2 separate regions of the Homo sapiens genome follow, and region 2 is linked to region 1. A link means that fine-mapping ties the variant in region 1 to the expression of a gene that starts in the linked region. Tissue or cell type: unexposed skin. Region 1 holds a variant in brackets; the other region holds the start of a gene. All regions are shown on one strand. Distances are from middle to middle.

The links. PIP is the estimated chance that this variant, and not a neighbour inherited with it, causes the effect.
Region 2: it holds the start of COL13A1, and the variant in region 1 is fine-mapped to the expression of COL13A1 in unexposed skin (GTEx, PIP 0.95).

Annotation. Positions count from the first base shown.
Region 1 is chr10:69,954,683-69,958,938 of GRCh38, reverse strand. COL13A1 (collagen type XIII alpha 1 chain) reads right to left here. Exons shown (of 41, transcript NM_001368882.1): 40 at 1,897-1,935; 41 at 1-240. The coding sequence ends at 238. It overlaps LOC107984242 (a long non-coding RNA gene), which reads left to right. Exons shown (of 4, transcript XR_007062181.1): 3 at 2,084-2,269; 4 at 3,961-4,044. Among named protein-coding and RNA genes, the nearest start is that of LINC02636, 53 kb to the left of the region's middle. RefSeq lists a silencer at 2,051-2,120. The variant C/G (reference allele first, on the strand shown) is at 2,505.
Region 2 is chr10:69,800,087-69,804,086 of GRCh38, reverse strand. It overlaps COL13A1 (collagen type XIII alpha 1 chain), which reads right to left and starts at 2,181. Exons shown (of 41, transcript NM_001368882.1): 1 at 1,370-2,181. The coding sequence starts at 1,663. It overlaps LOC124902444 (a long non-coding RNA gene), which reads left to right and starts at 2,316. Exons shown (of 2, transcript XR_007062179.1): 1 at 2,316-3,041; 2 at 3,951-4,000.

The DNA.
Region 1 (4,256 bases):
TCATGCAGACATTACGACCAAACAAAAAATGTATTAGAGACATAGGCTTATACAAAACATCTTGTAAACAAAAGGGAAGAGGTTGATATTTTCTGTACAAAATATGCAGGTTTTTCTTTCTTTTTTAATAATCTGTAAGATGCATCATACTTCTGGCATTTTCAAAAAGTGAAAACTGTATAAAAATAAATATTCTATGTACAAACACACACACAGGCCAATCCAAGGTTAGAGGCATCACTGCAAAACAAAAACAAAACAATGTTCTGTTAGTTTCAGTGGGTCTGCAGAGGTTTATTTCCTTTGTAGGAAGGGAGGTAAATCTTGTCCTGGGTTGGATGGGAGTTCTGGACAGGAGAACTGTGGGAACCCTGAGCCCCTAGGTGAAAGAAACTGGTGGCGACCTTAGCTCCCTGAAGGGAGGAAACCAAGTTCACCTCTCTGTGAATCCCCTTTGTGGTCACTAGAGGGCACTCTCTTTCTCTGCTGCCTTTGGAGGCCTGATTGTTGTAACCACTGCATTGTCCCAGATTGGACTTAAGGTGTGAATGAGTAGTCTTGAAGCTCTCTGGTTGCTTCTCCAAGACATTGCAGCTCTTGGTAGTGGCTGTTCTTCCCCTGCTAAGCACAACCATTTCTGTCTCCTAACCATTGGCAGCAACTTTAAAGAGGAAATTTTTTTAGGGGTCAAGGGTTCAGAGGTCTTATGACACCTCTGACCTGCTTTTGTGGCGCTTTAACTAGGTCTAAGTGGAGCTTGGCAGGAGGACGAGGCCAGCCTCCAGGGATGGATTCTGGGGAGGCATCTCTCTTGAGTGTTGAGCTTTTCCTTCTTGGGTTAGGGGGTGCTTTAGGTATCCAGGCAGGTAGGTGGTCAGCGTTGGCCTGGGGTCTTGGTGGTTTCACCACTTTTACCCAACCCAGTGCACTAGTGAGATTCTGGCATCTTAGTACAGGGGAGCTTGTTCATCTCATTGTAAGTGTGACTCTGCTGCCACTGGAACAGGACTGGATTCGTTGAGCACAGATTCTTGAACATGTTGGAGTCTCCGGTCCCTTTATGAGGATGAACCTTGAGACAATGGTGGTGGGGGGTTGGTGAGAAGACTTGGAGTGACAGGCAAGGTGGAGGGAGACGGTATGGGGCAGCATAGTGGCTGCCACCATTGCTGGGGACCAAGGCGGGTCTTCTGGATTAGTTAGCAAGCAGATGGCCTCTGTCTGCCTGGGCAGCCCTGTGCTCTGGGGAGCCATGGTTGAATGGGGCGATCACATGCAAGGGCACAGTCCTATGATGTCAGACTGCTCTAACAATGGCAAATGCCAAGGCCAGTGTGAATCAATGAAAACTCATTGTTGGTAGGAACTCTGGGAGCCCAGGAGAGATTTGGCTGCAGGTCACATGTGTGGTGGCATGAAGCTCTGCCAGCTTAAATGCAAGGGGAGTGGTAGAGTGGTGAGGAGCACAGCCCCTAGGGGAGGCACAGTAGCATGTGAGTTCAGAGTGAAAGCAACTGAGATGTCCTACGTCTAAGACATGTCATCACGTGGCATAAACGACCTTAGAGGAACTCTATGAGTGTGATCTGGAACTCCTTGGGGAAGTTCCTTGGGGGAAAGACACTATGTACATTGAACACACAAAGCATAAAGATGTCACCTGTGTGGCTGCATGGACATTCCGCCTAGGGTTTACTGATGTTCTAAGAAGCATTTTAAAATGTTTGTTAACAGCATGCAGTGTATGGGATGTTTAATGGGCACCCTGCCTTTGAGACAGTGACTATTTGACCTATGTCTTGCTGCCTCATCTGTAGCAAGGCAGAATGGAAATTGTGGAAGCTTTATGGCACTGCTGAGAACGGAGCCCCAGTGCACACCAATGGGAAGCCTTACCTTGTTCCAGCAGCCTTGGACTGGTAAGCCATCTTCGCCCTGCAAGGAGAAAGGAAGGCAGAGGGCTCAGACTTCCTGCAATGGTCCACCAAGTGGGCAGGACAGGGGTAACAAGGGCCACACGCATTTTGGCAGCTGATCAGGATGTGGCCCACCCACGCTTGTCTATTTCTTTTCTCTACTACAGGTCAGAACCTCAGAAGGAGGTGGAAACAAATCCGGCTATTTTACCATTGGTTAAAGGTCACATGCAGCTATAGTGCAACGTCAATAGGGGCTGTCCTAGCCCGTGGGACCAGCAAGCAGAGATGTCCTTCCGTGCCACGAAGAAACAGTCTCTGCTGTGGCCCTATGGAGTGCCGGCTGCTCACGGGTAAGCCACTCAGCACAAGGCGGCCTCAGTTTCCTCCTCCATAAAACCTTGGCAAGGACAGTTGCTTGATGTGACCGCTAAGGGCCTTCCCAGCCTTCTCATTCTCTTATTTGTCTCTCTTCCTAAGCACAGGGAGGAGGACATGTAGACAGTCCTTCTTTGATGATTAATCCTGGGGTGGGGTGAGGGGCATGAAGGGACAGGCAACCTCATGAGTATTGCAGGATGGCCCTGA[C/G]ATGCCTTTGGCAAGAAGACAAGGGTTCCTGGCGAAGCCTTAGACCTTGCTGGGAATTTGGGGGTGAAGTGCAGTAAAAACATGGGAATCAACTGCACACCGTCGGTCTCCTTTGTTGGTAGCAACCATGCAGCTCCTTTAGCCTCAAGATGTTCGTGTTCTGCCCTTGGTGATAGAAACTTTCCTGAGTTTTCTTGGGCCCTCATATCCTCTCCTTGCTGGCATACCCTATGGGGAATCTAGAAATCTAGAGACCCAGTGGGGAAGGCGAGGCTGGGCCAAGGGCAAAGGTCTGGTTCTCAGCCCAAGTCTGCTAGACTGGCAGGGCAGACAAGGAGATGGACATGGGGCTTCAGGAGACCCGGAGCAAGTGCTCAGTCCTGAGGGAGCTTGTGGAATGAGAGTCCTCTGCTGCCCTGGTCTGACGTCATCCACCCACGCCAGGGGCTGAAACCTCTCATCACCTGGCATTCAGCAGAAATTGGTCCCAATATGGAGGGCTTAGGAAGTCTGGTTATCTTGTAGTAAAAGTCATGAGCAATAGCTACCCCTGCCCCTCAAGCCCATAATAACACAGAGGAGGAGGCAGAGTGAGAAACAAGGGGAAGACACTTCCCCAGTAAAATTAATAGAAAATTGACACATTGATATGGGATGTTATGGAAGAAAATGCCATTTTACATGGAGAGTCAAATCAGGGTGACCTTCATTTTCCCCTCTGGGTTGGGGAGGGGATTGCAGGGGGAGGAGGTGCATTCCACAGTTTCAGGGTGACCCTGTGCCCCTTCCCCAGCCTGCCACGGTGCGGTATGACACACGTCACATGGATGCCGGGAGGGAGAGGAGCCTCTGTGGGCCAGAGCGGCATTCCCATTGGTGTGTGGATGGTGGCAGGGGGATATGGAGGGCAGGGCAGGCAGAGAATGAAAAGTAATGTATGGTGAGGAACAGAGAGGCCAAGGCAGCTGCTGGCAGAACTAAAGGTGCCCAGATTGTGGGAGGGGATTGTGGCTGAGGGAAGACCTGGCCAGTGCTCAAGGGAGCCCCTGCGGGCCAGAGCGGCATTCCCATTGGTGCGTGGATGGTGGAAGTCCTGGTTGAGAAAGGTGGCTGTGCAGTCTGCAAGCGCAGGGTTTGGCAGGACCAGCAGGGACAGGAAGCATGCTACCCGCCTGCTTGCTCTGCACTCTCCTTTTGTTGCCTATGCTCCTCCTAAAAAGTCCCTACTGCCCTTCAAGGGGCTCTACGACCACCTTTCAGGGTCACACAGCATAATTTCTTGTATCTTTTTCTCTTTTGTTCAAAGAGAATTCCTGTGTGACCCCAGGGCGGGGATGTGAGACCCCAAATTCTCTTATTACTGGTATGATAAAATAGCTCTTGAACTCCAAACCTATTGGGGAAATTTGGGGAGAGCTGTAACCCCTTGAGCCTTGGAGTGAAGTGTTCCCTTCAGCTTCTTTTGCAGTAAGAGGATCAGCGTGGAGGCCTAGACTGTCCATGCCTAGAGAGGGACTGGGCAGGCGGGAATAAACTGCTACCACTTCGCCTGGGACGTGCTTGGAAGAGAGGTCCTTAGCTGTCTCCCTGCCTCCTCCTTAACTACATTCTTGACCTTTCCGTCTCTCCCAGACTCTTCAGTAAGAAGCCATCTGATCATGAAAGAAAGGGACGAGGAAGGGTCTGGTAATGTCTTTGGAGATTTAAGCAAGAAGGACAAACCCTTTAGGATCCGAAAACCTAATCCTGGAC
Region 2 (4,000 bases), 150 kb after region 1:
GGAGCCTGGCAGGGCGTGGGAATGAGCTGACAGCAGCAGTCATGGGTGCACCACTAGCACCAGTACGCTTGCCCTGTGACCGCTCTCTCTGCTCTGGCCCTGCAATCTCCTCCTTGGCCACCCTGGAGAACTGCTCCAGCAGGTGCCAGCCTGGCAGGGGCAGCTGAGAAGAGCCTGGCTATAGGGAATAGGTACATCTTGCCAAAATGCTCACAGCACCCCACCCACCACAGTTAGAGCTGTGCTCCAGTGTTTGCTACATCAGCACTGTTTCGCATGTTCAGAGGGGTTGGAGCGTTTGTCCCAAGCTTCCAAGTAGCAGAGTGGGGATAAAAACCCAGGGTTGCTGGCCTCTACCACCGTGATCTTTACTGCTGCACACTCCCTCCAGCTAAGTAAGATATCCTCTCCCATTTCTTCCCCATGGAAACCTTCCATGGCCAGGACCTTCCATGGCCAGGACCTGCTCCAGGACCTCTTCCCAGACTGCTGCGGCCCCCACCTGCCTGTCCTCCTCTCTATCTGGGCCCTGAATCCCCTGTGCTGTCCAGATTCCCACAGATCATCAAGCCTCACCCTGTCAAGGCCCAGCCTTTCCTCTGGTGGCACAAAGAGGCTGCATGTCCCTCCTTCCTGGGGAGGGGACAGCCTTTTCCTGTATTCCGAAGATTGCCATAGCTACCTGACACGCTAGTAGTGTTTAATCTACTTGGATCAAAAAAATTTGGAGAATGGAAGAAAGCATCCTTTCTCCAGAAAAATAAGAAACCTGGTTTAGGAAAAAGAAGGTGTGGACTAATTTGTGGCCAAGGACAGCAGAGCCAGGCGACCCACACTTGGACCCTAGCGGCCTGGGCCAGTGAGCAGAGACCAGGGCACCACCCCCTGCAAGAACTGTCCCCTCTCCCCGCACCCCCCGGGTCCTTAAGGGGTGGAGGGGGAGGGCCATGGGGGCTCAGTAAGCCTCGGCCTGGGCCTCTGGGCGCGCTTGCCGCTGCGCGGGCGCGGGGCGGCTGTCACACCACCCTGGCCGGGTCCCGAAAGGGAGGAGTGGAGCTTGCCCGCCTCCGCGAGCCTCCGCGCGCCCAGCCTTCCTCCACCTGCCCGGCGTGCCCAGGGCGCTCCCAGCGCTGGAAGCCGGGGGCGCTTGCCCGAGGCGGGAGTCGCTGGGTCATGCTCTTGCCCACCAGGTCCTCCGAATCCCTGGTAGGGCAGCGTCTGTCCGTGTCCCCGACCCCTCCCGCAGGCAACTCGCGCGAACCTGGGGCTCGCAGAGAGCGAGCGCCCGCGGACACCGGCTGAACAGTCTGGAGGCTGCGCGAGGGGGCGCCGCGGGGAGGGATAAAAGCCAGCAACAAAGAGCACAGACCTCGTCCAGCAGTTGATTGACTCGTCCCAAAATAGCCGTCTCCATTTGCTGCTCCCCGCGCTCCGCTTCCAGGCGCAGCACCCGGGCCTGCAGCTCGGCCGTCCGAAAGTGGGCGAGCAGGCTGAGTGCCAGCGAGCAGAGGGCCAGCGTCAGCAGCCCGCACGACCCTGGACTCGGCAGCCGTGCGCCGCGCTCCGCCCGCGCCGCCACCAGAGCCACCGTCCCGGGCGCGCCCAACTCCCCAGGGCCGCGGGCACCGGTGGCTGCCGCTTTGTGGGTGCGCTCCGCTACCATCCTCTCGCGTCTTGAGAACCAATAAATAAATAAATAGAATAAATAAAGGCGACAGCCGCTGCCAAAAGGCTCTATCCAAACTGCGGGGCAGGGGGAAAGGGCTTGTATCGCTGGAAAACGTCCCTTTCCGCTGCTCCCGGCAAAGAGGACGGAAAAATTAGCAGTAGGAGAGGAAGTGCCGAAAAAGCACAACCAGCGGTAATTGGGGTACACCTAGGTGAGAAAAAAGTTATTTCGAAGAACGTTCCAAGTCCAGGAAAGTTAGGGGAATCTGACCGGCTCTCCTTCTCTCCGCCCAGTCTTTCCCTTCAAGTGTCTGCAGAGCAGTTGGTGCCGCGCTGTCAGTCCTTCTGGGCGCCTCGTGTCTCCCGGGCCAGTCAGTTTCAGTCCCCGGGCGAAGGGGCGCACACGGAGGGCCCCATGGGCAGAGGTGGGTCGTGGCGGCTGGCGAGGAGCGCAGGGGCCGATTCCGGCGCCTCTGTAACTTGACACACTCCCTGCGGCGGCACGGATCGGATGAGCAATCCGTGCTACTTCCCAAACTAATCTCTCCCTCCCCCCTCCCTCCTCCTCCTCCTCCTCGTCACTCCTCCTCCACCTCCCGCGGGGCCGACGGCTTGGATTTGTTTATTTATGCAAACTCGCCCAGGGTGGGGGGCGTGGTGAGCAGGTCCGGCGGCCCCAGCCCGCCGGCCCGGGAGCCCCTCTGCCGCGCTCCCCGTCCTCTTTGAAGTGACACTTGGGGTTATTTATAGGCAGGAAGGGGGTGTGGAGTGGAGCTGGCGCTGCACTTCCCTCTCTTTCTCCGGATTCACACCGAGGGCTCGTTTGGCCTTCCACGGAGGCGGTGAGGCGGGCACCACCTTCCATGGACGCGTTGGGGCAGGCACCACTCCACCTTTCCCAGCCCTTGAGACCCTCCAGGAACTCGACTGAGTTATTGTCAGGGCTTGTGGGTGGATCTCCACGTCCTGATCAGGACTACCTGATCCCTTCAGCCACCGCTCCTCTACTCCCAAGCCCCCAACCTCTTTCCCCTTCCTTCTCCCCCGACAACCGACTCCCCGGGGGCTCTGTACCTCCTGAGATCTGCAGCTCCTCCAGTGCCGGGCGGCCAACCACATCTTTACTCTGGGGTGAAAAGTCAGCCCTCCAGGGGGCAGCAGAGCTGGCAGCCCTTCCTCTCAGGACCAAGACCTGAGGTAGTATGAGACACTGAAAACGGAGGAGATCTTATTCCAGGTATCTGAGAGGTGGCTCATTGGGGCCGCCTGCCAGTCCTGACATCTCCCCTTCTTGCCTGCCATTAATCTGAGACCCATGCCATCTATCCCTGTGTGGTGAGACCAGCCTGCCTCAATCATCCCAGTCATCAAAGGTGAGCAATTCCTACACAAACTCAGGTTCCATCCCTGCGGGAGGCTTAGGGCTAACCAGGCTCTCTCCTGTTGTCATTTCCTATATTCCACTAGAGAAAAACTGGTGGCCTGAAGGGCATTTGGTAGTTTTCTCTCTTCTCTTGTCACCTCCTCCACCCCCCACATTAAGTAGCATTTGTATCCCAAGAGACTTTATCTCCTTGTGCCTGTTGACATTCCTGTGAATGAGGTGGTGGGACTGAGTTTTTGGGAGAAAGCCTGTCTTCCTGGAACAGCGGGCAGAGGAGAGTAGACTGGGTTTTCAAATATGCAGTGGAGGTGGGGGCAGCAGTGGTGCTGGGATTCCATTTCAAAATAACAAGGCATGCCAGTACAAACTTCCCATTTTCTATATTGACCTGATGGAACTTGATATATAATACAGTGTCACTGCACTTCTAATAAAGTGTGGCACACTTAATAGTGCATATTGGACTTGTAACATAGTAAGTACTGAGATCATATGTAATAAAGGTAACATTGACTGCTGGGCCAGTCAGCCACTATGGAGGACAACAGGAATAGAAGGCGATGCTGCTGAAAGAGCCCGTGGCCAGGAGCTCTGGGTTCCAGTTCCAGTTCTAGGATTCTCCTGATGGCTTCAGTGGCAAGGGCACTCTGTTTTCTCCATCCCTGTGATGGGATGTCCCAGTCCACTCTACAGAGGAATGAATCCTTGGGAGACTTGGATGGTATTGAAGAACACCAGGGGGCGTTGGAGAGTTTCTGCACTGGGAGGTACAGGCCAGGAAATTCAGGGACTTTGGACTTCCCCCACTCCCCTCCCAGGCTAGTCTGAATGGAGGAACTGAGGTGGGGAGTTAGTTTCATTCCCTCCTTATTCTGCAAACTGATCTTTTCCCTTTCAGGACTTTGGAGGCCCTCAGGAATGCTCAGGCAGTGAAATCTAAACAGTTTG